Homo sapiens: one gene and its partners. The protein of the gene in region 3 purifies or fractionates together with the protein of the main gene of each other region. This does not show direct contact. Each region holds a gene or a part of one and is shown on either strand. Other genes may lie near its edges.

Region 1 (7,022 bases), on a different chromosome or scaffold from region 3:
ATCTCCACCCTCTGCTAGAAAATTCAATGCAAGCTGTGATCTTACCAGCACTGGCAAAAATGAAAGCCTACCACTTCAAAGGGCCTTATTAAGGCCCAAGAGCAGTGAAAGCTCCTAGATAATAGGCATCATGTCATTAGGAAAATAATAAAATCAGAAACCTTGAAAACAACTTCTGCCTCTGCCCCTAATTAGCCAAGTGACCTCAGGAAGGCATTTAATTAAAACTGAGAATAACAATGCTTGCCTTACCTATCTCATAGTGTTATTTGGAGAATTACATAACATATGTAAATTGGCATAACACATTTGCAAGCTATTTTGTATGCTTTGTAAAGGATTTACTGATGTCACCAAAGCCATGAAGTTCATGCCTTTTAAATAATCCAATTCTCAAAAATTTATCCTACGGGAATAATTCAGTAGAAACAAAAATACATATGTGTAAAAATGTTCACTGCACTTTCCCTAATATTCCAAAAAACTGAGAATTAACCCAAATACCCAGCATTAGGAGAAAAAAAAAATACATCTTGAGAAAGATCATACAGCCATGTTGAAAATAAGGAAAAATGTTTATGATACAACGTTAAATGAAAATGGACTCTAAAATACTAAGTATCCTGCGCCTGCAACTATGTAAGAATTACATGTGGAAGATGACAGTGGAGTTAAGGTGATGGGGTTAAAAGAATTCTTTCTTATTATTACTATATCATTTGTCCTTAACGCTTATTTCTAAATTAAAAAATGCTTTTTAAATGAAATTATGAGACTGAAATCACTTTGTTTTGCTTCAAAACACCCCGTTTAGTCCCCTTACCTGAAGTCACCTGCTGTGAACTTGGCTTCAGCTAGTGAAAAGGCAGCTTCTCTCATCACTTCGCCCATCAACATTTTAGTCTGGAAAAGCATAAACCAACAGCAGATTCAACCAAGCCTTTTACAAGGAAATATTCCATCATAATTATGTTCCTTTAATAACCATCAGTATTTTATGCTGGCTGTGCATGTAAATATTGGTTTGATAACGACAAACAGAAATTTCCAATTTTTAACAGTTTTGGTTATGATCACTAACAATATTACAAACTATGAGTTTTATAATTAAAACAGAATAAATGCATTGAGAAACAGAAAACTGAATCTTTACTGAAGGACCTATATTATTCCTGAATGGGTACATGCTGATTTACTCAAACTAATCTCTTAAATTCACTGCAGTTGCAGTCAAAACCCTAATGGTGTATTAATTTTAAAGTACATCTGGAATATTTAATGTTTGAGAATATTCAATAATGTTTCAGAAAGAGAAGAAAAACTGGGTCAGCTGGGTAGGGAGTTGCCTTCCCAAGTATTAAAAAGGTACAGCTACAATAAGGAAATATTAATATATCTGGTTTGGGACAGTTAAGTCAATGAAATAGACTAGAGGATTCAGAAACAACCCCAGGTCTATATGGAAATTTAGTAAAGAGACCACTCTACTGTCTATACAGTACAAAATGATAAAGCTACCTACCTCACATCATACTGCCCCCAAAATTCAGACATAATTAAGATAAAGGTTTAAAGAAAAAAAACTGTAAAGCAACAAAAGAAAATGTGGCATAATATTTTCTTAATCATTTTAGGTCTTTTCTAAGCCTTATATGTAACTCAGAAGCTATATAAAGAAAAAGACCAACAGATTTGACCAAAGGAAAAACATTTTTAACTTTTTATTATTTTTATTTTTTGAGACAAGGTCTTACTTTGTTGCCTGGGCTAGAGTACAGTGGTGTAATCATAGCTCACTGCAGCTTCAAACTCATAGGCTCAGGCAATCCTCCTGCCTCAGGCTCCCAAGTAGCTGGGACTACAGGTGCATGCCACCACACTCTGCTAATTTTCTTCTTCTTCTTCTTCTTTTTTGTAGAGACAAGGTCTCACTGTGTTGCCCAGGCTGGTCTCAAATTCCTGGGCTCAAACCATCCTCCCACCTCGGCCTCCCAAAGTGTTGGGATTACAGGCATGAGTCACCACACCTAGTATTAACTTTTTTTTTTAAGTTAAAAGAAAAGGCGTGGAAAAAATATTTTTAACATTTTACACATTAGGCAGAATACACATAGAACCTCTACCAAAAAAAAAAAGAAGACATTTACCAAGAAAATCAAATTGTCAATAAGCATGAAAAGCTCCTTAACTTCACAAATAATCAAAAGTAGTACAGGGCCAGGCACAGTGGCTAACACCTGTAATCCCAGTGCTTTGGAAGGATGAGGTGGAATGATCACTTGAGCCCAGGTGGTTGAGACCACCCTGGGTAATAAAGCAAGACCCCATCTCCACAAAAAATAAAAAAATAAAAATAAAAACAGCACTCATAGAAAATGCTTTTGTTAAGTACGTACAGGTTTAAAAATAAAACACAAAAACTGTAAACTCAGCACTTTCGGAGGCCAAGATAGAAAGACTGTTTGAGCCCGGGAGTCAAAAAGACTAGCCTGGGCAACATAGTGAGACCTCGTCTCTACTAAAAATAAAAAAAATGAGCTGAGAATGGTAGCATGCACCTGTAGTCACAGCTACTCGAGAGGCTGAGGTGGGAGGATCACTGGAGCCCAGTTTGAGGCTGCAGAGTAAGACCTTGCCTCAAAAAAAAAAAAAAAAGAAAAAGACTAGAAATAAAATGTCATACCATGCGGTAGTACATGCTACAATAAAATTAAAATAAGGAATTGTGAGAGAAGCAAACATGGTGTTCACTTTAGATTGGGTGATCAGGAACAGCCTCTCTTAAGAGACTAGAACAGCTAAAGGAGCCAGTTATAAGTTCTGGGGAAAGAGTATTTCAGGCAGGAGAAAGAGCTAATGAAAAGTACCTGGAGGACCTTAGGAAGAATGCTCTAAATAAGGTAAGAGAGGCAGGCGGGGGGCCAATCAGATCAAGTGGAGCTTTGCAGGCAAGATTAAAGAGTTTGGATTTTATTAAATGAACTATTTGATATTTGACACTTGTTAAACTTATAATGGTATTTTTACTTTTGAAAGAAAAAAATTAATTAAAATAACAACAACAAAAAAAAAAATGCCAAGGGCCATGCTGGATTTTTCTAAAATAAATACTATTCTAAGAAAAGTTCATTCTACCTCTATTATCTTCTTTAGGATCTGTCGAAATCGAAGAGTTAAGGCATCAGATTTTTTCTTCAGGAGGTTTCGACCTGTCTGTGCTCCCTTTAAACGAGCCTTCATGATGGTCTGTGCCCTATATAAACATAAACAAAGTTAAGACATCTATTCTCATTGTTTAAAAGACAAAAAAAACCCTCCCCACCAGTGTTAAAATTATCCTTTATCCTTTGATGTGATGAAAGTGAGACTATATAGAGAATTTGTAGCTGACAGGTTTAACTGATGCTATGGTTTGAATATGTCCCTAATCTTCATGTGTTGGAAACAATCTCCAATGCAACAATGTTGGGAGGTGGGACCATCAAGAGATGACTGGGTCATCTGGGATCTGCCCTCCATGAATGGATTAACGTCATTATGGTAAGACTGGGTTCCTTATTGCAGGAGTGGGTTGGTTTTAAATGTGAGTTCATCTGGGTACACCTGTAATCCCAGCTACAGGTGTAAGTGGGAGGATCCCTTGAGCCTGGGAGTTCAAGTCCAGCATGGGTAAGATAGTAGCAAGACTCCTTTTGTTGTTGTTGTTGTTGTTGTTTTTGAGATGGAGTCTCACTGTGAGGCCCAGGCTGGAGTGCAATGGCGCGATCTCGACTCATTGCAACCTCCACCTCCCAGGTTCAAGCAATTCTCCCACCCCAGCCTCCCAAGTAGCTAGAACTACAGGCGTATGCCACCAAGCCCAGCTATATTTTTTTGTATTTTTAGTAGAGACAGGGTTTCACCATACTGACCAGGCTCATCTCGAACTCTTGACTTTAAGTGATCTGCCTGCTTCAGCCTCCCAAAGTACTGGGATTACAGGGATGAGCCACCATGCCCGGCCCGACTCCTTATTTTTTGAGATGGGGTCTTGCTCTGTCACCCAGGCTGGATTGCAGTGGTATGATCATAGCTTGCTGCAGCCTCTAACTCCTGGTCTCATGAAATCCTCCAGCCTCAGCTTCCCAAAGTGCTGGGATTATGGGCATGAACCACTGCACCTGACCCTGTCCCTTTAGAAAAAAAAAAAAAGGCATGTTCGACCCTTTCTTGCTTTCTCTCTCACCCTCGCCTTCTGCCATGGGATAACACAGCAAGAAGGCCCTCACCCTTCTCAGCCTCCAGAACCATGAACCAAATAAATTTTTTTCTTTATAAATTACCCAGTCTCAAGTATTGTTATAGCAGCAGAAAATGGACTAAGACAACTGGTTTTCCAATAATGTAGATTTCTACCATCAGTGTTCCATAAATGAAAAGTTTATTAATTTACAACAGAAACAATTTTATAATCAATATCTGGAATATTTATTAAATCATCATAAATGTTATCAGGAGCCTTATTTTATGATGCCAACATAGTTTAAATACTTATTTGATTTGTAAGTTAAAATAATATCTTTGTTTTAGTTTCCACTGGAGGTATATTAAGGATTTAAAAATCTATCCACTAATATATATCAAAATTTTAAATGCAATTATTTTCAAGACCAACAATTCCACTTTGCGGAATTTATCCTACAAATTTATTCCCACATGTGTACAAAAACACGTGCAAGGTTTAAAAGATGGGTACTCCAGCCTTATGGTAATAGCAAAAGGGAGAAACAAGCTAAATGCTAAATACATCAGAGTTCACCTATGATGGAATGATATACAGTCATTAAAAAAGACGAAGGTATATAGGCATGTGCTGTCTATATAACAGTCTTATTTATGCAAAGTAAGGAAAAAATGTGCTTATATAGATGCAGAGAATAGTTCTAGAAAGGATTCACAAAAACTGGCAAGAGTTACCTTTGATAAATGGGACTGGATGAAAAATATGGATTTACTTTTTACTACTATATTCTTTTGTACCTTTTGCATTTTATTTTATTTTTTGAGGTGAAGTTTCACTCTTGTTGCCCAGGCTAGAGTGCAATGGCGCGATCTCGGCTCACTGCAACCTCTGCCTCCCAGGTTCAAGCGATTCTCCTGCCTCAGCATCCCGAGTAGCTGGGATTACAGGCATGCGTCACCATGCCTGGCTAATTTTTTATTTTTAGTAGAGACAGGTTTCTCCATGTTGGTCAGGCTGGTCTCGAACTCCTGACCTCAGGTGATCCGCCCACCTCGGCCTCACAAAGTGCTAGGATTACAGGCATGAGCCACCGCACCTGGCCTGCATTTTTTATACCACAATAATTTACCACATTTTCTATTAAAAGTGTGGTATTAACATGTTTTGATATCATCAATCAAGATCCTAACAGCAATCATTTTATTAATTTGTAAAAGACTAGGTAACAAATGACATACGTAAGATTCCTGAGAAATGACAAGCTAAATTTACACTGAAGTCTCCTCACTTCCTTGTTTCAATTTTTTTCCCCATCAGAAGCCCCAATACCAAAGTCAAGCAGAAACTGACATTTCTGTTCTTGCTGCCATATGCCAGATACAATTTAATAATGAAAAAAGTGGAGCCCAGTTCGAGGATGTAGAAGTAAGACCCTGTCTCAAAAAAAAAAAAAAAAAAAAAAAAAAAAAAAGACTAGAAATAAAATGTCATACCATGCAGTAGTACATGCTACAATAAAATTAAAATAAGGAATTATGACAGAAGCAAACATGGTGTTCACTTTAGATTGGGTGATCAGGAACAGCCTCTCTTAAGAGACTAGAACAGCCAAAGGAGCCAGTTATAAGTTCCGGGGAAAGAGTATTTCAGGCAGGAAAAAGAGCTAATGAAAAGTACCTGGAGGACCTTAGGAAGAATGCTCTAAATAAGGTAAGTGGTACAGTGGCTTATGTCTATAATCAGCACTTTGGGAGGCTAAGGTGGGTAGATTGCTTGAGTTCAAGACCAGCCTGGGAAACAAGGTGAAACCCTGTCTCTACAAAAAAAAAAAAATATCAAAATTACCTGGGCATGGTAGGGCACACCGGTAATCCCATATACAAAGAAGGCTAAGGTGAGAGGACTGATTGAGCCCAGGAGGTTGAGGCAGTGAGCTGTGATCATGCCACTGCACTGCAGCCTGGACAACAGAGCAAGACTCGGTCTCAAAAAAACAAGTGTTTGGGTAATAAAATTCAACAATAAGGTTGTATAACCTAGACACAGTATAACCTAGACACAGTGATTTAAGGGGATATAATTTCATATGACTGGTGTTTTAAAATCGCATGTACTAATAAACTTTTTTGGCCAGGTGCAGTGGCTCACACCTGTAATACCAACACTTTGGGAGGCCGAGGCAGGTGGATAACTTGAGGTCAGGAGTTCGAGACCACCCTGGCCAACATAGTGAAACCCCATCTCTACCAAAAAATACAAAAATTAGCTGGGTATGGTGCTGCATCCCTGTGGTCCCAGCTACTCAGGAGTCTGAGGCACAAAAATCACTTGAACCTGGCAGGCAGAGGTTGCAGTGAGCCAAGATCGGGTCACTGCACTCCAGCCTGGGCAACAGAGGGAAAACCTGCCTCAAAAAAACAAAAACAAAAAAAAAAAAACAAAAACAAACAAACACCATTTGGCCAAATTCTTAAATTATACTGGAATCTTTTACCATAGGGCTAAGATCACTAAGACAATTCTATAGCTGAAAGGGACTTTAGACATTAACTTAAAGATTAGAAAAATGAGGCTTAGAAAAGTAAAACAACTTTCTCAAAGTTACTCAGTGAAGAAAAGGCAGGGCAGGGACTTGAACCAGACTTTTGATTCCACTGACTTTCCCAATGCTCAAACTAAGGCTCCAACCTACGTTCACTGTACCCCAAACATGTGCCTCCCCTTAAAGAGAACAATTATCACTGGCTGACTCTGCACTGACTGGTCTCACAAGAGGTCTTATCAAGTGAAGGTCGTTTAG
Region 2 (7,383 bases), on a different chromosome or scaffold from region 3:
CTTGAGTTTCTCTTGGAGTCCCCGGAGCTGGCTTCGACCCCAGTCAATGCGGTTCTGGAGGCTGGCTATGTCTGCGGCCAGCTGCAGGCCTGGAGGAAAGGAGAGAAGGTCACCATGGTATCTGTAGTGTAACACACGACCCAGGAGGATCTGGATATCCCCAGAAATTGGAAAGGCTTCAGGCCTCTCTGCCCCCCACACTTGTCCCAAAACATTCCAGGTACGGCCCTGCATTGGCTGCTCCAGAACCTCTGAGGCCTTACACCTCCTTCAGGTCTTTGCTAAAATGTCACCTCCTTAGACTTCCTGGACCCATTATATCACCCACCAGGAACTAAAAATTCACAGATAGTAATACCATTTCATGCCCTCATTTCCTTCCTTCCCCCATTATTACAGCATCTCTCTGCCCTCACCTGCTCTCCCTCCACTTCTTTTCTCTGTTAGTCCACACTCTGGATCCACCTCTAGATGGCTTTTGCTGATGTCTCTGCTGGAACAGCTGCTGCCCAGTCCTCCGGGCAGCTCTCGTCTTCGGCCTCCTGTTCAGCAGCAGGGCTGACCACACATTGGATCACTCGCTCCAGGAAACACTTTCTCTTCTTGGCCTCCAGGACACCTGCCCCCAGGTGTTGCTCCTCAGTTTCCTTGACTGGCTTCTCCCCTCTTCTCCCTCACCTCCCGTCCATACTCCCCAGGCCCTCTGCTGATCTCATCCTATCTCAGCTTTAAACCAGTGTTTGTGTCAAAAACTTTGGAATTTAAACACCAGTGCTATGCAGTGGACTCCCAAATCTCTCTCCAGCCCAGGCCTCTCCCAAACTCCAGATACATGTGCCCAAGTGCCCACTCAGACTCTCCAGCAGGGCGTCGGTGGATACCACACAGACCACACCAACTCCTGCCTTCTGGAATCCTCTCAGCTGCCCACAGCAGGTGAGGGTCGCTCCATCCTCCCAGGGGTTCTGGGTGGAGACCGCAGGCTCTCCTGGACTCCTTTCCTTCCCTTACTCCCATATCTTATCTGTCAGCAAATTCTGGGGCTTCTATTCTTAAAACCTGTGCAGGTTCCCACCACTTACCTCCTCCTCCAGTGACGCTATCTGCTTCTCACACTGGCTGCTCCCTGACACCTACTTCCTCCCTCTGCTCTGTGTCCCCGCCCAGCACCCAAGCATTCCTGTGACCCTGTACAGCCAGTTGCACCATCCTCTGCTCAGAGCCTCTCTGTGGGTCCCACAGTCTTCATCAGGGCTTACATCACCTGACTCCACTCTAGGCCACCGGCCTCGGCACATACCAGATATATCTGGCTTCAGGGCTTTTGTCCTGGCTGGTTCCTCCATCTAGAGCACTGTTCCCCAAAATCACCCACAAAGCTTTTCCTTCACCTCCTCAGAGAGACCTCCCCTGGCCCACTCCTGTCCCACTCCATTATGTGTTTTTCATAACAATTTTCACAGCCTGACTTATGTTAAGGGCCTACTTATTTGCACGTTGCCTTTGTCTGCTTCTAAACATTACATGAAAAGTGTTTGTCTCTTTTGTTCCCTGCTGTATCCCCAGCAGCTAGCATGAACCCGAATGCTGCCAACAACCAGTAAATGCTTTTGGAAAAAATAATGGGTGTACAACGGAAGTTTGGATGGAGGAAAACCTGCAAAGCCTTTCACAGACTAACCCCAGCCATGGCAGCAGTGCTCAAGTGTTCCCTGTGGATAGAGGGTCTGAGGGCCACAGAGCCAAACAACACGGTCCACTCACCATCCCGGAAGCTTGCTTGAGCCTGACGTAGACTGTGAGGAACTAGGATTCCAAACCAGTTCAGGGGGTCCTGAGGGGCCTCAGAGGACTCCGGTTCTGGGGTCTTAGTGGGGCCCTTGCGCCTCCGCAGACCTGAGGAAAGAAAGGTTGGAGGAGGCTGGGATCTTACTCCCTGACCTTTATCATCTTGGTGACAATGTTGAGCTTGATCTGAGCTCATGATTCTATAAAACACTGTTGGTTGGAAAATTCCAACTTTGGGGTTCCAGGAAACAGCTTACCACAAAACACAGCCTTTCCCCTTGTGATTCAGATGAGACTGTTTGTCCACTCTTTCCCGTGACTCCTGTAAGACCCACTGATGACCCTGTTTGCCTGTGACACTGATCTTACCCATTGTACCTGAACATGCCAACAGACCAGACATAGACGTTCCAACTCCCCATTCTTTGTCTCAGGATGATTAACTGGGATTAGAAGTTTGTCCCTCTGAAACTAGCTAGACACACAGATAAATATTTTCTGTTCAGCTGACTGAAATGTATGTGATTGTAAATCTATTCCCAGTGTAAAGCAACTCACCAACAATTTCTCTACTTCCTATAAAAGTCTAAGGCAAAACCACCCTACAAAAACATTCTGTTCTTCTGCTCTGGGATGCTCTCTCTTATCGCAAAAACCTAATTTAAATCATCTCCATAATTTGCATTTTGTCTTTGACACTGGGAAGGGGTTCTGCAGAAGGAAGAGGGGGCTCACCTGCTTCGCGAGGCCCCACCTCCTCTGGGGCGTGGACACCAGCTCTCACCACCTTGAACTTCTGGAGTCCCTCCTGGGCCTCGCTGAAGGACGAGAAGGGAGGATGGAGCTTTGGCAGCCCGGGCCTAGAACGCGCCCGCCCGCCCACCCAGCCCAGCATGGAAGCTTCCTCACCTGGCGTGGAGGCAGACCTGGGGCTCCATGTGGGAAGCATACTGCAGGGGCCCTACCGACTTGGCGCCCATCGCGTAGCGAGCCTTGGCGAGCGAGAGCCAGCCCTGCAGGGAGAGGAAAGCGGTGAGACTCAGTTTACGCCCGTGTACCCTCCTGCCCGCCCCAGGCGCCTACCTCCTCCACCCGGGCGTTCAACACCGTTCGTTTCCCCTCCAGCTCCTCCAGGTCCCCAAGCAGCTGCAGGACCAGCGAATCCAGCTCCGCTCGCAGGTCAAGCGCCGCCATGGACACACCTCCAGATCTGGAGCCACCTTCTTCCTTGTCACCCTCCGCAGTTTGGCAGGACAGCCAATAGGCACACGAGATCCTCCATCAAGGGGCGTTCCCATCTGGGGATCCCCACGCCGGCAGCACCAAGGCCTCTGGGTCAGCTTCTTTAAGGGCAAGCGCCCTTAGAGAAGCAGCACGGAAGCAACCAATCAACTGGTTTCTCCAATTAGCCCCCAAGTGGATCAGCCTGCTGAACTGTCGGCTAGGGTTATAGGTGGTTCTGAGTCCTTCCGGAAGCTGCCGAATCTTAGAAGTCGCGCCACTGTTGTGGCGATGGAAGAAGGCGAAGCTCTACAGAAACCATTTTGGTTGAGGGAAGAGTGGTTTTAAAGTTAATTTGGAAAGGAGCCGGCAAGCAACCTTCAGTCGGTGTGCGGTTTTTACAGTTGAACTGTTTCCAGCCGCTAATTATGATTGTTTTAGCGGTTCGTCATCTGAAAACTGCATTCTGCACGGCGGTGGTGGGGGGAGGACGAGGATGGAGAAGCCTGGGCGGACATATTTATTAGCTGCGGTCCTAAGTCACGTGTGACATTCTGTATCCAGTCTATCGGTTATCCCAAGGAGAACGCCCTGCCGGAATGGCCAATCGCCTTGAGATGTCCCCGCCCTATTCGCCATCTTAACATAGGGCATTCCCCACAGCTGCAGGCACCAGTGAAGCGTCTAAGGGACCATCTTGGTTGAGGGCGGAAGTGAGGACTGTGTCGCGCTGGAGGAGCCCACAGATTCTCCCGGACCCACGTGGAAGCGGCACTCAAGATGGTAGGAGAATGAGCTCCTGTTTCGGAGGTCCGGGGCGCGTGAAGTGCTGGGGATGTGGCTCTGGGGACTTGGAGGCTCAGCGGCTCCGGGGCTCCGGGGTTCCGGGGCTCGGGAGCGAGTAGTGAGTGACTGGGCCTGCTGTTCCCACAGCTGCGCCGCGAGGCCCGCCTGCGCCGCGAGTACCTGTACCGCAAGGCCCGGGAGGAGGCGCAGCGCTCAGCCCAGGAGAGGAAGGAGCGGCTGCGGCGCGCGCTGGAAGGTAAGGCATCGGCCCCGCGGGCGTCTGCGTGGTAAACCACCCCGGCACGCATTTGTGTTCGAATATCCGAGCGTCTTTCCAAATGCTTGCCGGCCGTTTTCCTTGCCCATTGGGTTCTCCTGTTGGTTTTGAGAGTGTTTCTTCCGTGTGATGGTATTAATTACTTGTCACTGACGTTGCAGTACCCGGGTTTTGCAGCTTGCCCGCTGTGTGCAGTGTGTCAAGTTCGTCCCAAGTTTTAAAGACTTTATCTTGTCCTGTAGAAATTCTCTTTAGAGCGGTGGCTCACTGCTGTAATCCCAGCACTTTGGGAGGCCGAGGCGGGCGGATCATGAGGTCAGGAGTTCGAGCCTGACCAACATGGTGAAATCTCGTCTCTACTAAACATACAAAAATTAGCCGGCCGTGGTGGCACGCGCCTGTAATCCCAGCTACTCAGGAGGCTGAGGCAGGAGAATCGCTTGAACCCGGGAGGCGGAGGTTGCAGTGAGCCGAGATCCTGCCACTGCACTCCAGCCTGGGCAAAAAAGCAAGACTCCGTCTCAAAAAAAAAAAAAAAAAGAAATTCTCTCTAAAGACTATCTGGATAGCGCTGGTGCTGCAGACTGCGCTGCCCATCCTCCCTGCAGGAGTTCCTCTGAGCTCCGTGGGGAACAGTGCTGGCCCCGAGTGCGCACCTGGAGCGCTGTGCTCTGCGGTAGGCAGCCTGTGGTCCAGGGCCCGCTGAAGCCATGCCTTCGAAGCGCTGTGGGCATCGTGACCAACGGTTTTGCTGTCTGAGAGCTTAAAGGTCTCTGGTCCACCATCATACGTACAGAACAGTCTATATTTCTTTTCAAAAGTAATTTTTAAGGCCGAGCGCTGTGGCTCACGCCTGTAATCCCAGCACTTTGGGAGGCCGAAGCGGGTGGATCACGAGGTCAGGAGATCGAGACCATCCTGGCTAACACGGTGAAACCCCGTCTCTACTAAAAATATAAAAAATTAGCCGGGCGCCGTGGCGGGCTCCTGTAGTCCCAGCTACTCGCCAGCCTGAGGCAGGAGAATGGCGTGAACCCAGGAAGCGGAGCTTGCAGTGAGCCGAGATGGCACCACTGCACTGCTCTGCCTGGGTGACAGAGCGAGACTCCGTCTCAAAAAAAAAAAAAATCGATGTTTAGATTTCTACCTGATTATAAAAGCAATACAGTACATTAAGATATTTTAGAAAGTCCTCAAGTCATGAGACTAAAGAAAATGAAGTCCTAGTAACCACTGTTTATGGGGGTTGGCCTGTAGAAAGTTTTGTCACCTCTATCCATGCTTTATCCAAGCTCAGAAAGGGCTGAGGTATTTTTATTTCAAGCATGTGCAGGCTAATAAGCTGTGGTGTATTGGATGAGCTGAGGTCTCCATGCTTGTGACTCACTCAGCCCCTCTCTCTTCCCTCTGCAGAAAACCGCCTGATTCCCACTGAGTTACGCCGAGAGGCTCTGGCCTTACAGGGGTCCCTGGAGTTTGATGATGCTGGAGGTGAAGGTAACTATACAAGGTAGCCCTCCCCAACACTGAGCTGGCAGGTCTCCAGTCCTTCCTCAGACACACCGGGCACCATCCCATCAGAGGAAACTGCTCCTGGAACTGTCCCCCATGCCCTTGTCACTGCACAGATGGCATTGCAGGGCTCTCCCTGAGTGTGCCCTGTCCCACTTACATGGCACACATGGGAGTGCCTCACTGACTCTGCACCTGGCTTGTTAATTACCTCCCCCACTGGAGTGCCTGCTGGGGAAAGACAGTGTCCCTCACACATTATTGGTGCCCATACGTTTATTCACTGCATTATTCAAGAAACAAGAAAGGAATCCCAAACATTATAGATATTTGTTACGAGGGAAAAGAGTTTGTCACCGTTGGCCTTAGCAGAGTGTGGATTTCGTTGTGTAATGGAGTAGCTGCTTAGCCCCATGTGACTAATATAGCTTAAGCAAACTACAATTAAACAAAAGATTCTGTTTCTCAGCCACGCTTGTGCTCAGCAGCCAGAGTAGTTGGAGGCTGCCCTCTTGCCCGGTGTGCATGTGGAGCATTCCTATTGTTGAAGGCTTCGGCAGACAGCGACATCCAGGCGGTCTTGGCTGCCCCGAAGTTAGCATTTCATTCCCAAGACTGTCATGTTCTTGCCCCTCGTGCTCCTGACAGGTGTGACCAGCCACGTGGATGATGAATACCGATGGGCAGGAGTCGAGGATCCCAAGGTTATGATCACTACCTCCCGAGACCCCAGTTCCCGCCTCAAGATGTTTGCAAAGGTACTGGTGAGCAGGGAGTGAGGGAGAGACACCCAGGACACACAGCCCCAGTCCTGACTGTACACTGCCATCCACGCCCAGGAGCTGAAGCTGGTGTTCCCGGGCGCCCAGCGAATGAACCGAGGTCGACATGAAGTGGGGGCACTGGTGCGAGCCTGCAAAGCCAACGGCGTCACCGATCTGCTGGTCGTTCACGAGCATCGGGGCACACCTGGTAAGGCCGGAGGGAGGGAGTCGGGGTGGGAGCCGTCTGAGGGCAGACGGGGTCTCTGACAGCCACCTTTCCCCGCCAGTGGGGCTCATCGTCAGCCACCTGCCCTTTGGTCCTACTGCCTACTTCACGCTGTGCAATGTGGTCATGCGGCATGACATCCCAGACCTGGGCACCATGTCGGAGGCCAAGCCCCACCTCATCACACACGGCTTCTCCTCCCGCCTGGGCAAGCGGGTGAGTCTGGGGGCCTTCAGGCTGGGGCTGCGGGCCAGGCCAGGCATTTGCCACTCTGTTTCCCTCTCTTTCCTTGTGCCCCAGGTCTCTGACATCCTCCGATACCTATTTCCCGTGCCCAAAGATGACAGCCACCGGGTCATCACCTTCGCAAACCAGGACGACTACATATCATTCCGGTGGGTCCACGGGCCATGCCCCAGGAAAGCATCCCCACCCTGTGTACCTCGTGCTGCTTGCCGTTGACCCACAGCTGTTCCCTCCCAGGCACCATGTGTATAAGAAGACAGACCACCGCAACGTGGAGCTCACTGAGGTCGGGCCCCGCTTTGAGCTGAAGCGTGAGTTTGAGGCTGAATCCCGTGTCTGGGGTGGGGAGGGGAGGCTGGCTGTGCCGGGGCTGATGCCATCCCTGCCTGCAGTGTACATGATCCGTCTGGGCACGCTGGAGCAGGAGGCCACAGCAGACGTGGAGTGGCGCTGGCACCCTTACACCAATACCGCACGCAAGAGAGTCTTCCTGAGCACCGAGTGAGCACACTCACCACTCAGTCAGGACATGGACTTGGAACTCAGGATGGGGCTGTCATAGA
Region 3 (7,022 bases):
AACTGATCCTTTTTGTGAGTTGAGCTGTGGTAAATAACATCACATTTTAGCACGAGGGTTGCCACCTATTAATTCAAACAAGCCAGAGGTCATAGATCTACTTGGTGACTGGTGGAGCTGTGTGGATCTGGTAACTTGGAAGCCATTGTTCACTGCCTCTGCTGATTTGTTGCCACATTTTTCTCATTCATTCTGGACATTGCAGTGGAGGGAGCCACCTCTACTTTTGACTCCTGTCCTTCAGTTTCTCCATCTGCTCATGCGCCCTCTTAACCATGTGGCATGCCACTTTCGTGGTGGCCTCCCCTTTTTATTTGCTGTGGATGACCAGGGCCATCATCCTTTATTCTCTGATGTGGAAACTATTCAAGGGAAGTGAGCAAACTGGGCCAATGGTAGGATGTCATTGCAGAGTGCCAGGATATCCTGATGCTTTGAAGGAAAACCACTGGAGAACTTGGATGCTTTATCATGGTTTTGCCAAAAATATAGCTATTGAGTGGCAGTCACTGTGCTAGGGAATGGCCATCACCTTTTTGTTAGGAAATAATGTTTTATATGCATTTTCAATTGAAGCAAACATACCAAATGGAAGATAATTATATAAATTCACTTATATGATCAACATTTGTAATATCCTGTGCCTTGCTTGGTAAATGGCAAATAAAGATCTCTGGTGCACATTTAAAAGAATGCTCTTTTTTTTTGGGCTCTCTGAAGGTTGACCTGCTCTTTCTTTCTGAACTGCAAGTGCTACATGATATTTCAAGCTTGGTAAGTAGGCTGCTCTAATTTTTTAATTCCATTTATTTTGGTTTCTAGAGAATCCTTGAATAATAGTAAAGGCAGTTGAAAAGTTTGATTAAGTATGCCCTAGATTTATGATCCCATGAAAATTGAAAAATTAGTGGCAATATTGGGAATTTTGAACACATCCATGTTATAGTCAAATTATTTTGCATTTCTGCTTTTTAGGGAGAGACAACATATCTTCCAAGAACACAAGCCTGGGCGTAAGAACACCCTGGCCATAGTCCTAACTTGGCTGTTGATTTCTTGTGAGACTTAATTCCTATCTATATCTTTGGGCCTAAAATAGAAATAATAGTTTGGACTAATAATGCTGTCAGTCAAGTCAAGAAGGGACGAAATCCGTCTGAAGGGTATTTTTTTGGTGAATGATTTTTTAAAAATCATCCTTGTTACTGAAATAGAAATTCTTATCTGTTTGCTACCTTCTGAAGTTGTTTTCCAAACTTTTTCAACAGGTGTTGGTTCGGGGAGTCTGGAAGTGTAGTGCATTCCTGGGATCAAACTGGTCCAGCCATCTGTTCTTTCATACGTTGGCCCATACCTGAGTTTTTAAAACTGAGGAATTTTGTTGAAAGCTTTTATTAAATATCCAAGGAGTCTTGTACTGCTCCTAAACATGAGATTCGTGTTGGATTTATCAGAAACGCTTATTCAAACCAGTTTCTTTTGCCACCATTTTAGACTATTTGCATGTTGTGGTACACTGGTATGGTTTAGTTTAGCCTAGTTTAGTTAGGCATAAAACTTTAACTGGCTGTGTTTGACGTCTTTCATCTTACTTTATCCGCTACCTTTTTTTGTTTGTTTGTTCTCCTAAGCTGTCTCGTCATAAGCATCTAGCCAAGGATCATTCTCCTGATTTATATTCACTGGAGCTGGCAGGTTTGGATGAAATTGGGAAGCGTTATGGGGAAGACTCTGAACAATTCAGAGATGCTTCTAAGATCCTTGTTGACGCTCTGCAAAAGGTAAATATCAATGCGACATGAGAGGTTGGAGTATGACCATTTCACTTTTAGCCTCTTAATAGAAAAATCTGCTGTTTCAAACACTGTTGATTGAACTCTTATTTGCCTTCTTTGGGGCTCCTCTAATTATACTGGCCAAGGATGGAGTAGGGTCAAAAATGTATATTGATATATTTCTTCCTAATGCTAGAAAGAACAGCATTAGGAAAAGTTATCTCACACAAAGCTTTACAAAATTATTGTGGTAAAATATATATAACATAAAATTACCACTTTAACCATTTTTAATTGTACAGTTCAGTGGTATTAAGTGCAAGTACGTTCACATGTTGTACAACCATCACCATCTTCTATTTCTAGAACTTTTTCTTCTTCCCCAACTGAAACTCTGTACTCCTTAAACACTATGAGATAACTGAAGTAGAACACCCAGCACAGTACCAGACAGTAGATGCATAATAAATGCTAGTTCCCCTCTGCCCTTGAAGTTCTTCACCTGCATCCTTTCAGTGAGGCTTCATATTTTAATCTTTATAGATGTTTGTGATTAACCAGAGACCACTTAGGAAGATTTCATTTCTCTTTCCAACTTCCCTTCCTCCAATTTATATGCTGACAAATTCAGTCTCTTCTTAAAGTAATTTTAGTCTAAACATTTGAATATATGTTAAAGCTTAACACTTTTCTGTATAGTTGAGCAAAATCAAAACCTTTAAGACTTGCTTATTGTAAGATGTAGTATATTTCATGAGCCAGGAGGTAAGTGTACATTGTTCTTGTAGCTGCACAAAAGCTTTAAAAATAATTTTAATAAGTATGTATTTGACTCACTGCATAAAATGATAAGTAGGAGGTAATGCATATGTTAATTAGCCAATGTGGACTTAAGCCATTCCACAATGTGTACATATTTCAAAACAATATGTTGATGTGATAAATATATATGATTTTAATTTGTTAATTAAAAATGAAAAAAGTACATAGTTGAGATTCCCAATAATGTTAATAACTAACTTTCAGTTTGCAGATGACATGTACAGTCTTTATGGTGGGAATGCAGTGGTAGAGTTAGTCACTGTCAAGTCATTTGACACCTCCCTCATTAGGAAGACAAGGACTATCCTTGAGGCAAAACAAGCGGTGAGTATATTTTGAGATCCTGCTTTAAAACTGTAAAATTAACTTCTTATAAAAAAAAAAAAACCAAGTCCTATATCACCTAAGGGTGACATGAATGAGCAGTCAGTAAATCTGAAAAACAATTTCAGTTAAAACGTAAGCTTCTTGTTCACATACATATGTGTGCTTTGCCAGTGATGATCAGTTCTTTAGGGTTATAATCAGATAATGCAAGAATTTGAATTAGGGATAAAAGTAAATCTGTCCAAGATTATAATTCAAATATCAGTACACACAAGGAGATATCAGAAGTTAATGTGGCGCCAGGTGCAGTGGCGTGCATCTGTAATTGCAGCTTCTCAGGAGGCCAAGGCAGGAGGATTGCTTTAGCTCAGGAGGAGTTTGAGGCCAGTCTGAGGAAACATAGCAAGACCCTGTTTTGAAAACAAAAAGAAGTGAATGTGTGCGGGAGTGGTGTGGTGCCCACATCCTATGGGCTCTGCTTTTCTAGCAGGCACATTGTCTTTGTGGCGTAGTCCCTCACTTACTGAGATCCTCTGTGTGCACCTCTTTATGATTTTGATTTACTTAACAGTTTTTTTGGGTATGGATCTTGCTTTGATTTTAAGCATTTAGAGGGTCAGGGTTAAGCATTACCATGGTTGCTGGCCATGGTAAAATACATATCTGTTTATGTGTATGTACGTGCACATTTACATACATACATATATACTTACAGCTGCAGCAGAACCTAGGGAGGGTGATGGGAAAGAGTAGTGTAGATGCTCCCTAACATCCTACGTCTGAGAACATTGCTTAGGGCTGGCTGTATCACTTGCAGCAGATAGATATCCACTCAATTACATACACCTCCGCTTCAGACCCATTTGCAGCCCTCACCCTGCTCAGTTTTACTGAAGTCAGTGTGGGACTTGGAGTCGGAAGGTCGAAGCCAGTGCCTGTTTGAGATAGTCTAGCGATTACTGGTTTGAGATTGTTTCTTTCTAAATTAAATTGGGGATGGAAGGACCTTTGTTTCAGACAGCATGTCAGTCTAGACAACCACCCAAGATTTCCCACCATAAAACGTCTAGAAATGCTAGATAAAAATAAAGATCTTTTAAAAAGTACATAGTTTGGGCTGGGTGTGGTGGCTCACGCCTGTAATCCCAGCACTTTGGGAGGTTGAGGCGGGCGGAACACCTGAGGCCAGGAGTTCTAGACCAGCCTGGGCAACATGGTGAAACCCCGTCTCTACTAAAAATACAAAAATTAGCCTGGTGTGGTAGCGGGCACCTGTAATCCCAGCTACTTGGAAGGCTGAGGCAGGAGAATTGCTTGTACCCGGGAGGCAGAGGTTGCAGTGAGCCAAGATTGCACCACTGCACTCTAGCCTGGGAGACACAGCAAGACTCCGTCTCAAATAAAAAAAAAATTACAAAAATAAAAATACATAGTTCAGCTCGCAAGAAAGGGAAATTCTCTTACAGAGTAAATAAAGAAGAGGAGGCCGGGTGCGGTGGCTCACACCTGTAATCCCAGCACTTTGGGAGGCCGAGGTGGGTGGATCACAAGGTTAGGAGTTCGAGACCAGCCTGGCCAACATGGTGAAACTCCGTCTCTACTAAAAACACAAAAAATCAGCCGGGCGTGGTGGCGCACGCCTGTAGTCCCAGCTACTTAGGAGTCTGAGGCAGACAAATCGCTTGAACCCGGGAGGCGGAGGTTGCAGTGAGCTGAGATTGTGCCACTGTACTCCAGCCTGGGTGACACAGTGAGACTCCATCTCAAAAAAAAAAAAAAAAACCGAATGTGGTAAGCAGGCCGCCCTAAGGATATTTGCCAGCTGGGTCACCAAGAGTCCTTTGGTGCCTTGTGTGTGGGGGATGGGAATGGACAACTCCAGATAAAGCTGGGGACCCCGAGAGAGCTGTGCCCTCAGTGAGAGGGTAGACTGGAAATTTTTGCCCACCAGCACAGGGAAACAGAAAGGCACCTGGGCTCTGGGTGGTCAGCACATGTGTTGAGAGTGGGGATGCCTCCCAGAGAATTCTTTTTTTTTTTTTTTTTTTTTTTTTTTTGGATTTTTTGGAGATAGGATCTTACTCTGTCACCCAGACTGGAGTGCAGTGGCACAATCTCAACTCACTGCAGCCTCCACCTCCCAGATTCAAGTGATTCTCCTGCCTCAGCCTCCTGAGTAGCTGGAATCACAGGCATGCACCACCACACCCGGCTAATTTTTGTACTTTTAGTAGAGATGGGGTTTTACCATGTTGGCCAGGCTGGTCTTGAACTCCTGGCCTCAAGTGATTTGCTCACCTCAGCCTCCCAAAGTGCTGGGATTACAGGTGTAAGCTACCATGCCCGGCCTATGAGATTTCTTTTTAGGGTGATAGAAATGTTCTAGAATTAGATTGTGGTGATAACTATGAAACCACTAAAATTCCTTGACTTGTACACTTAAAATGGGTAGGAAAAAGAACATGTTTATCAAAAAAAAAAAAAGGAAAGAAACAAAGAGGTCTTCATGGGCGTGAAATCCTTTAACGTTTGCCTCAGCTCTGAGCTCCCCGCAGGTAAATATGCATGCCTGTGTACCCATTCTCTCCTACATTTGAAATCACTCTCTTCCATTAGTTTAAGGAGACAGGAGTTTAAGGAACATTTACTGAGTACTCACAACATTCCAGGTGCTGGGGCTGTAGGGACAAATAGATCTCGGTTACATTTTCGTTCTCATCCTCACTGCCAGGCACCCTGCCCCCATTTCTCCCACCTCATTTGACTGCCGCCTCCTAACTTGTCTGAACTCATCTGTCTCTCTGCTTCCCAGCTGGCTCCTCCCAAATCCATCCTACACATTGTCATCAAAGTTATCTTTTTTCTTTTCTTTTTTTGAGACAGGGTCTCGCCCTGTCCCAGGCCGGAGTGCAGTGGCGCAATCATAGCTCACTGTAGCCTCAAACTCCTGGGCTCAGGTGATCCACCTGTCTGAGCCTCCTGAGTAGCCAGTTCTATAGGCTTGAGCCACCACACTCAGCTAATTTTTAATTTTAATGTTATCTTTTTAAGACAAACCTGATCATGTCACTCACTTTCTGCCTAAAGCTTGTCAATGGCTCCTTATTGCCCAGAGGCTCATGTCAGATTTTCTGTAGCTTCCCTGCTTCTAGCTTCATCTCCTGCTGTGTTCCTACTTTTAAAATTCTCTAGCCAGAATGAATGATATTTCCCAAACAGTGCCTTTGTCAGAATGAATTCAGTTTCCCAAACAATGTTTTTACACAGCTCTGTATTTTAAAAAAAAGTGTTAAGTGGATCATACATACATAAGTATATAACATATTTAATACTAGTTATTTAAATAATAAAAATAATAACACTGTATAGCTCCGTTTTCATATGGCTATAAAGAGCTACCTGACACTGGGTAATTTATAAAGGAAACAGGTTTGATTGATTCACAGTTCCACATGGCTGGGGAGGCCTTAGGAAACTTACAATCATGGAGGAAGGGGAAGGGGAGGCAGGCACCTTCTTCACAAGGTGGCAAAAGAGAGAGAAAGTGGCACACTTTTAAACCATCAGAGCTCATGAGAACTCAGTATCATGAGAACAGTATGGGGGAAACTGCCCCCATGATCCAATCACCTCCCACCAGGTCCCTCTCTCGACACGTGGGGATTACAAATCGAGATGAGATTTGGGTGGGGACACAGAGCCAAACCATATCAATAGCTTAAGAGAATGCTTGCTTCTTTGAAGCTCCCTATTTTCTCCCTCTACCCTCCCTCATCCAGAGGTAACTGCTGTCCTGGATATCATGTTAATCCCTTGCTTTTCTTTACAGATTGACTGCATATGTATTTGTTCTTAAACAGTGTTGTTTGGTTTTGCCTGTATTTGAATTTTATATAAATTGAATCATACTACATGTATTTTTCTGTGTTCTTTGTTCAGTATTCTTTTTAAGATTCACTCAGGCTGACAAATGTAGCTGTAGTTTAGTCATTTTACTGTTACATATTCTGCTTGTAGGGATATACCACAATTCCATTCTGTTGATGATTTTTTTTTTTTTTTTTTTGAGACGGAGTTTTGCTCTTGTTGCTCAGGCTG
Region 4 (7,756 bases), on a different chromosome or scaffold from region 3:
AGGAGCAGAGGGAGGAGAATGAGCATTTGTTGGCTGGTTCCATGTTCTCTTTTTTTTTGAGACAGGGTCTCACTTTGCTGCCCAGGCTGGAGTGCAGTGGTGTGATTACAGCCCACTGCAGCCTCAACTTCCTGGGCTCAGGTGATTCTCCCACCTCAGCCTCCTGAGTAGCTGGGACTACAGGCATGCACCTTGCCTGGCTAATTTTTTTTTTTTTTTTTTTTTTTGTAGAGACAGGGTTTCACAATGTCGGCCAGGCTGGTCTAAAACTCCTGAGCTCAAGACATCTGCCTTCCTCAGCCTCCCAAAGTGCTGGGATTACACGTGTGAGCCAATGCTCCCGGCCCCTGGTTCAGTTTTCAAAACTCTCCCTCATTCCCTGCTCGCAACAGCCTTGCTAATTAAACAGTATTGCCCCATTTGCAAAATGAGAAAACAGACCCAGAGAAGTGAAGCAATCTGCTCGACGCCACACAACTGATGCAGAACTACAGTAAGGGAGGCAGCATTGGAACCCAGCTCTAACCCTCCATTTGCTGTAGTCCAAGGAGAACCTCAATGGTGATGTACTATGAATAGAAAAAAAAAACAAAACCTTGAGGCCAGGTGCCATGACTCACGCCTGTAATCCCAACACTTTGGGAGGCTGAGGTGGGAGGATCCTTTGAGACCAGGAGTTCAAGACCAGCCTGGGCAACATAGACCCGTCCCTCCGCCCCCACCCACCTCCCGTCTCCACAAAAAAAATTAGGAGGGCATGGTGGTGTGCGCCTGTAATCTCAGCTTCTCAGGAGGCTGAAGTGGGAGGATCACTTGAGCCCAAGAGGTTGAGGCTGCAGTGAGCCGTAATTGTACCACTGTACTTCTGCCTGAGTTACAGAGTAAGACTCTGTCTCAAAAAAAAGGAAAAGAAAAAACCCCTTGGGCAGTGGGAGTCCCATGCCCAAAAGTCATTTTAAGTCAGGAGGGGGAATCAATCTTGGAGGCTGCTGGCCTCTCTGGGAGAAAGGATTCACTCTGGCAAAGCCTGCCCTCTCCTCCTTTGGTATCTGTTTCCTGTTCCCTTCACCAAATTGCTGAAACTTGAACCCTGCCCAAGCTTCATGGAGAAAGGGGGCCTGTCTCTTTAACCAGTGGTGGCTGCCGTCCAGATGTTACTTCTGGTACGTGCTGCACGTGCTGTGGACAGTTAAAGGCGCAGGACTCAGATTTCTAGGGAAGGTGTAGAAAGGATAGCTGGCCTGGAGGGCAGCTGCCCGGTGACATGAGGGGCTTTTCTCATTTTCATCCTTTTCTTTTATTCATTTCCTTTTTTGGCCCCAGGAAGAGCAAGGGCTTCGGTAGGATGGCCATATTCTGTGCTGCTAGATGGATGATCACCTCTCACTAGCACTTAAGCCTCCCTAATAATAATAATAGTAAAAATAAATCATAATAAAATGTCCTCTTTCTTTTTTTTTTTTTTTTGAGACAGAGTCTCACTCTGTCTCCCAGACTGGAGTGCAGTACCTTAAGGCTGGGCACGGTGGCTCACGCCTGTAATCCCAGCACTTTGGAAGGCTGAGGCAGGTGGATCATCTGAGGTCAGGAGTTCCAGACCAGCCTGACCAACATGGAGAACCCTGTCTCTACTAAAAATACAAAAAATTAGCCAGGCATGGTGGCACACGCCTGTAATCCCAGCTACTCGGGAGGCTGAGGCAGGAGAATTGCTTGAACCTGGGAGGTGGAGGTTGTGGTGAGCCAAGATCGTGCCATTTCACTCCAGCCTGGGCAACAAGAGCGAAACTCCATCTCAAAAAAAAAAAAGCCTAAACCTCAGCATCACACAATATCCCCTTGTAATAAACCTGCACATGTACTCCCTGAACCTAAAATAAAAATTGAAAAAAAAAAATAAAGAAGGTTAAGTGTGGTGGCTCACACCTGTAATCCCAGCACTCTGGGAGGCCAAGGTAGGAGGACTGCTTGAGTTCAGGAGCTCAAGACCAGCCTGGGCAATGTGGCAAAAACCTGCCTCTCCAAAAAATACCAAAAAAAAAAAAAAAATTAGCTGGGCATAATGGTGACGGCCTATAGTTCTAGCTACTTGGGAGGCTGAGTTGGGAGGATCACTTAAGCCTGGGAGATGGAGGTTGCAGTGAGCTGTGATCGTGCCACTGCACTCCAGCCTGGGCAACAGAGTGAGACCCTCTCTCTAAATAAATAAATAAATAAATAGGACTGGGGGTGGTGGCTCACACCTGTAATCCCAGAACTTTGGGAGGCCACGGTGGGCAGATCACAAGTAAGGAGTTCCAGACCAGCCTGGCCAACATGGTGAAACTCCATCTCTACTAAAAATACAAAAATTAGCCAGGTGTGGTGGCAGGTTCCTGTAATCCCAGCTACTCGGGAGGCTGAGGCAGGAGGACTGCTTGAACCCAGGAGGTGGAGGTTGTGGTGAGCCGAGATCGCGCCACTATACTCCAGCCTGGGCAACAAGAGTGAAACTCCGTCTCAATAAATAAATAAATAAATAAGGCAGGCGCAGTGGCTCACGCCTGTAATCCCAGCACTTTGGGAGGCTGAGGCAGTTGGATCATCTGAGGTCAGGAGTTTGAGACCATGCTGGCCAATGTTGTGAAACCTGGTCTCTACTAAAAACACAAAAATTAGCCAGGTGTGTTGGCTGTAATCCTAGCTTCTTGGGAGGCTGAGGCATGACAACTGCTTGAACCTAGGAGGCAGAGGTTGCAGTGAGCTGAGATTGCACCACTGCCCTTTAGCCTGGGGGACAAAGTGTGACTCTGTCTCAAAAAAATAAAAAATAAAAAAAAATAAAAAAAATAAAAAAAATAAAAATGGTAAGCAGACTGTAGGACCACCTGGACAGTTCCTTCTAAAGGGCACTGGCCTCAGCAAACATTTCTGTGTCTGCTCACAGCCCACCAGAGGCCACCTCAAATGACCGTTTAATTTCCAACAACTGGGAAGCACTGTCTGGCTTTGGAATGTACTGAAACCAAAGTGGAAACAATCACCCATTGTCTGCCTCTGTGCTTATATTGAATTTTTTTCCCAAAATACAAAGCAATATTTATCTTTTGCATCGATGATTCACAATTTAAAGCCATTTTCAAAGTATGAGACGTTAGTGTCTTATGTTATTTAATAAGTTAAAACTTAGGACTGACATCAAGAAGACGATTTGGTGTAGTGGAGACATTGATGGCCCTTGGCTGGATTTGTGTCCACGTGTGGTGTGCATGCAGCTAGACAGGTCTGTTAACAAAATATTTTTGGGGAAGTCTAGTTTCTGGTGGTTAGTTTTTATTTTATTTTTTATTTTTTTAGACGGAGTCTCGCTCTGTTGCCCAGGCTGGAGTGCAGTGGCGCGATCTCGGCTCACTGCAACCTCTGCCTCCCTGGTTCAAGCGATTCTCGTGCCTCAGTCTCTCAAGTAGCTGGGATTACAGGCGCCCACCACCACGCCCAGCTAATTTTTGCATTTTTATTTTTTTATTTTTATTTATTTATTTTTTTTTTTTTGAGACAGAGTCTCCCTCTGTCACCCAGGCTGGAGTGCAGTGGCGCGATCTTGGCTCACTGCAAGCACCGCCTCCCGGGTTCACGCCATTCTCCTGCCTCAGCCTCCCGAGTAGCTGGGACTACAGGCGCCTGCCACCACGCCTGGCTAATTTTTTATATTTTTAGTAGAGACAGGGTTTCACCGTGTTAGCCAGGATGGTCTCGATCTCCTGATCTCGTGATCTGGCGGCCTCGGCCTCCCAAAATGCTGGGATTACAGGCGTGAGCCACCGTGCCCAGCCTAATTTTTGTATTTTTAGTAGAGACAGGTTTTCACCATGTTGGTCAGGCTGGTTTCGAACTCCTGACCTCAAGTGATTTGCCCATCTCAGCCTCCTAAAGTGCTGGAATTACAGACGTGAGCCACCACTCCTGGCCTCTGGTGGTTCCCCTTCCCCTCCTCCTCCCTTTTCCTTTCTTCTTCTTTCTTCCTCTTCTTCTCTCTCCTTTTTTTTTCCTCCACTTTTTCGTATTGTTCCAAGTGTTTTTTTGCAGTGAGGATAGTCTTTTTTTTTTTTTTTTTTTTTGAGACAGAGTCTCACTCTGTCGCCCAGGCTGGAGTGCAGTGGCGTGATCTCGGCTCACTGCAAGCCTGCAACCTCCGCCTCACGGGTTCAAGCAGTTCTCCTACCTCAGCCTCCTGAGGAGCAGGGATTACAGGCATGCGCCACCACGCCCGGCTAGTTTTTGTATTTTTAGTAGAGATGGGGTTTCACCATGTTGGTCAGGCTGGTCTCAAACTGCTGACCTCGTGATCCGCCCGCCTTGGCCTCCCAAAGTGCTGGGATTACAGGCGTGAGCCACCGCGCGCGGCGAGAGGATGGTCATTTTTACAGAAACAAAGTTGTTGTGTGTGTGTGTGTGTATGTTTTTAAATTTTGGGGCTGTTGAATCCATCAGTAGCAAAGGGGCCCAACACGTGTTCGGTTTGGCTGGCTCGATGTTTTTTTCACGAGTGAATTGGATGCTTCCAGTCCTCCCCAGACCCCTGCACTTAACTCCACTGGACTTCACTCTTCCGGCCTGGGAACGAGTGGTCCCGCCCCCGGCAGCTTTTGTCCCGCCCTCGCCGTGGCTCCGCCCCCTTCTCTCCGGCCTGCTCTCTCTCCTCCCTCCGCCCTCCCGTTTTCCATCTGTCGTAAAAGACACGGCGACGCTTGACCGCCGGCGTCGTTTGACGGCTGGAGGCCACCGAGAAGAAGGAGGAAGCAGGGGTGGCGGCTGCTGCGGCGGTTGCGGCGGGGGCCGGGGTGGGCGCCGCGGTCCGGGCCGGGCAGTGAGGCGCGGGCGGCCGGGCCGGTGGGCTGGGCGGCGGGCCCGGCGGCCGCCCTCGCACCCTTGCCCGCGCCTGGCGGCCCGATGTGGCTGCAGCAGCGGCTCAAGGGGCTGCCGGGACTGCTGTCGAGCAGCTGGGCCCGCCGCCTCCTCTGCCTGCTTGGCCTCCTGCTGCTGCTTCTGTGGTTTGGGGGGTCCGGCGCGCGGCGGGCGGCGGGCGGCCTGCACCTGCTGCCCTGGTCCCGCGGTGAGCCGGGCGCCGCCGAGCCGTCTGCCTGCCTGGAGGCGGCCACCCGCGCCTGGCGCGGCCTGCGGGAGCGCGGTGAGGTGGTACCGCTGGGTCCTGGAGTGCCGGCCCTGGTGGCCAACGGCTTCCTGGCCCTGGACGTGGCTGCCAATCGGCTGTGGGTGACTCCCGGGGAGCGGGAGCCCGCCGTGGCGCCGGACTTTGTGCCCTTCGTGCAGCTGCGCCCGCTGAGCGCGCTGGCTGAAGCTGGAGAGGCGGTGCTGCTGCTGCGGGAGGGGCTTCTGCGCCGCGTGCGTTGCCTGCAGCTGGGGTCCCCAGGTCCTGGCCCCGTGGCCGCCGGCCCCGGGCCCGCCTCCGTCTCTGGCCTTGCCGCGGGGTCCGGCCGCGACTGCGTGCTGCTGCAAGAGGACTTTCTGGCGCACAGGGGCCGACCCCACGTCTACCTGCAGCGCATCCAGCTCAACAACCCCACGGAGCGCGTGGCCGCGCTGCAGACTGTGGGGCCCACTGCCGGCCCAGCCCCCAAGGCCTTCACCAGTACCCTGGAGAAGGTCGGAGACCATCAGTTCCTCCTCTACTCAGGCCGGTCCCCGCCTACGCCCACTGGGTTGGTGCACCTGGTGGTGGTGGCCGCCAAGAAGCTGGTGAACCGCCTCCAAGTGGCTCCCAAGACGCAGCTGGATGAGACGGTGCTGTGGGTGGTGCACGTCTCTGGCCCCATTAACCCCCAGGTGCTCAAAAGCAAAGCAGCCAAGGAGCTCAAGGCGCTGCAGGACTTGGCACGGAAGGAAATGCTGGAGCTCTTGGACATGCCAGCGGCGGAGCTGCTTCAAGACCACCAGCTCCTCTGGGCTCAGCTCTTCAGCCCAGGTGAGTCCTGGCCAGCGCTTGGTCCACCCTAGATATGTCCCTCCCAAGTCTGCAGAGGTGACACTGAAGGTGATGGTGGGGTGGTTGAAACTTGGGCTTGGCGTTTCACCAGTGGTTGAATCTGCTCAACTGCTTAGTGTCTGTGCGACCTTTGGATTCGTCGCCTAATCTCTCTGGGCCTGTATTTAATAACAATAACGCCTACCTCAGAAGGTTTTTATGAGACTGTAGTGGACAATTGAGTGTAAAGGTCAATTCTTTCTGTTACTTGTTTTGGTAGATGGGGCCTGATGTGAGCAGAGTGAAGTGTTTTAGAGTCAGTTTGCAGAGGTGAAACCAGCAGGTGGATCCCCTGATTCTTTGCTCAGCACCGCAGTCGGCCTGGTGACAGACGTGGGCTTCTTGACATAACCCCTGCTAGGCTGAGGTGCGTCCTGGCAGTTGTGGCTGCAACTGGTTCACAGGGAGGTTGGAGAATCCCTTTTAGCAGGTTGAGATGCTCCCGCCCGATGAAAACTCTCCTCTCGTTGACTGTTAAAGAAAAGAAAATCCTGTTCTGGATGAGAGAGGGGTTTTGGTTTCCAGGGTTCCAATTGTCTGAACCTTTGTGTTTGGTTGCTCAGAGAGTTGAGTTCATTCAGCAAGTATCTATTGAATGCTTCTGCCAGGGCTGTTCTATGCATGGGGGGGTGCAGATGGGAACCAGAGTTCCTGTTCTCATGGTGCTTGCTTAAATTCTGGTTGGGAGGAAGACAGACATTAGAAAAGTGAAAATTAAAATTAAAATAAGGCATCTTTTTAGGCTAGAATGTGCTGGCTGGGCGCGGTGGCTCACGCTGTAATCCCAGCACTTTGGGAGGCTGAGGCAGGTGGATCACCTGAGGTCAGGAGTTCAAGCCAACCTGGCCAACGTGGCGAAACCTTGTCTCTACTAAAAATACAAAACTTAACCTGACCTCATGATCCGTCCACCTTGGCCTCCCAAAGTGCTGGGATTACAGGCGTGAGCCACCGCGCCCGGCGAGAGGATGGTCATCTTCACAGAAACAAAGTTGTGTGTGTGTATGTTTTTAAATCTTAGGGCTGTTGAATCCATCAGTAGCAAAGGGGCCCAGCACGTGTTTATTCAGCAAGTGTCTATTGAATGCTTCTGCCAGGGCTGTTTTAGGCATGGGTGGTGGCCTGCACCTGTAGTCCCAGCTACTCAAAGGCTGAGACGGGAGAATCACTTGAACCCGGGAGGCGGAGGCTGTAGTAACCTGAGATCGTTCCACTGCACTCAAGCCTGGGCAACACAGTGAGACTCTGTCTCAATAAACAAATAAATACATACATACATAAAGCTACAAGACTGGAGAGAGAAAGGACAGAGAGGAGAAGTGGCCTGAGACTGGCCTCAGCACTGGTGACTGATCTGGCGCAGGATGTCTGACCATAGGGTTGGTGCCAAGTCCTGGCTAAGTCTGTGTTCCTCTGGGCTCTGGCACCAGGCCCCGCTGCTTTTTAACAGGATTCTAGATTTCAGGCCCACAGGCTCAAGTTGGTCGTGTAAACAAGACAGGCTGACTTTCTTCTATACTTTAGGGAGATGGGCACCACTGTCTTTATCATTAAGGCACAACACCTCACTCTTCTGCTGCCCTTGGTCTTTATTTCGTATGCTCTGCCTCCCAGCTGTCCTTCCCCCTTAACATGCCGCTTTCATGGTGTTGCAGGAGTGGAAATGAAGAAGATCACTGACACCCACACGCCGTCTGGCCTCACCGTGAACCTGACGCTCTATTACATGCTCTC

What was found.
Region 1: the proteins of ATP6AP2 (region 3) and ATP6V1D purify together in Homo sapiens (affinity purification with mass spectrometry; 4 studies listed by BioGRID and IntAct, with this or other methods). This does not show direct contact.
Region 2: the proteins of ATP6AP2 (region 3) and VMA22 purify together in Homo sapiens (affinity purification with mass spectrometry; 5 studies listed by BioGRID and IntAct, with this or other methods). This does not show direct contact.
Region 4: the proteins of ATP6AP2 (region 3) and KIAA2013 purify together in Homo sapiens (affinity purification with mass spectrometry; 4 studies listed by BioGRID and IntAct, with this or other methods). This does not show direct contact.

Annotation. Positions count from the first base shown.
Region 1 is NC_000014.9:67,349,788-67,356,809, forward strand, and holds part of ATP6V1D (V-type proton ATPase subunit D), read right to left. Parts: intron 3,254-7,022; coding exon 3,136-3,253; intron 904-3,135; coding exon 824-903; intron 1-823. UniProt on the Homo sapiens protein: Subunit of the V1 complex of vacuolar(H+)-ATPase (V-ATPase), a multisubunit enzyme composed of a peripheral complex (V1) that hydrolyzes ATP and a membrane integral complex (V0) that translocates protons.
Region 2 is NC_000002.12:130,339,144-130,346,526, forward strand, and holds the start of VMA22 (vacuolar ATPase assembly protein VMA22), read right to left. Parts: upstream 2,991-7,383; 5' UTR 2,983-2,990; coding exon 2,872-2,982; intron 2,802-2,871; coding exon 2,698-2,801; intron 2,607-2,697; coding exon 2,524-2,606; intron 1,897-2,523; coding exon 1,765-1,896; intron 620-1,764; exon of another isoform or gene 417-619; intron 90-416; coding exon 1-89. Other genes in the region: U3 small nucleolar ribonucleoprotein protein IMP4, read left to right, coding at 3,790-3,792, 3,943-4,051, 5,486-5,569, 6,233-6,342, 6,424-6,556, 6,636-6,969, 7,058-7,131, 7,213-7,325. UniProt on the Homo sapiens protein: Accessory component of the proton-transporting vacuolar (V)-ATPase protein pump involved in intracellular iron homeostasis.
Region 3 is NC_000023.11:40,597,961-40,604,982, forward strand, and holds part of ATP6AP2 (renin receptor precursor), read left to right. Parts: intron 1-720; coding exon 721-774; intron 775-1,631; coding exon 1,632-1,781; intron 1,782-2,801; coding exon 2,802-2,921; intron 2,922-7,022. UniProt on the Homo sapiens protein: Multifunctional protein which functions as a renin, prorenin cellular receptor and is involved in the assembly of the lysosomal proton-transporting V-type ATPase (V-ATPase) and the acidification of the endo-lysosomal system.
Region 4 is NC_000001.11:11,923,411-11,931,166, reverse strand, and holds the start of KIAA2013 (uncharacterized protein KIAA2013 precursor), read left to right. Parts: upstream 1-4,739; 5' UTR 4,740-4,929; coding exon 4,930-5,962; intron 5,963-7,677; coding exon 7,678-7,756.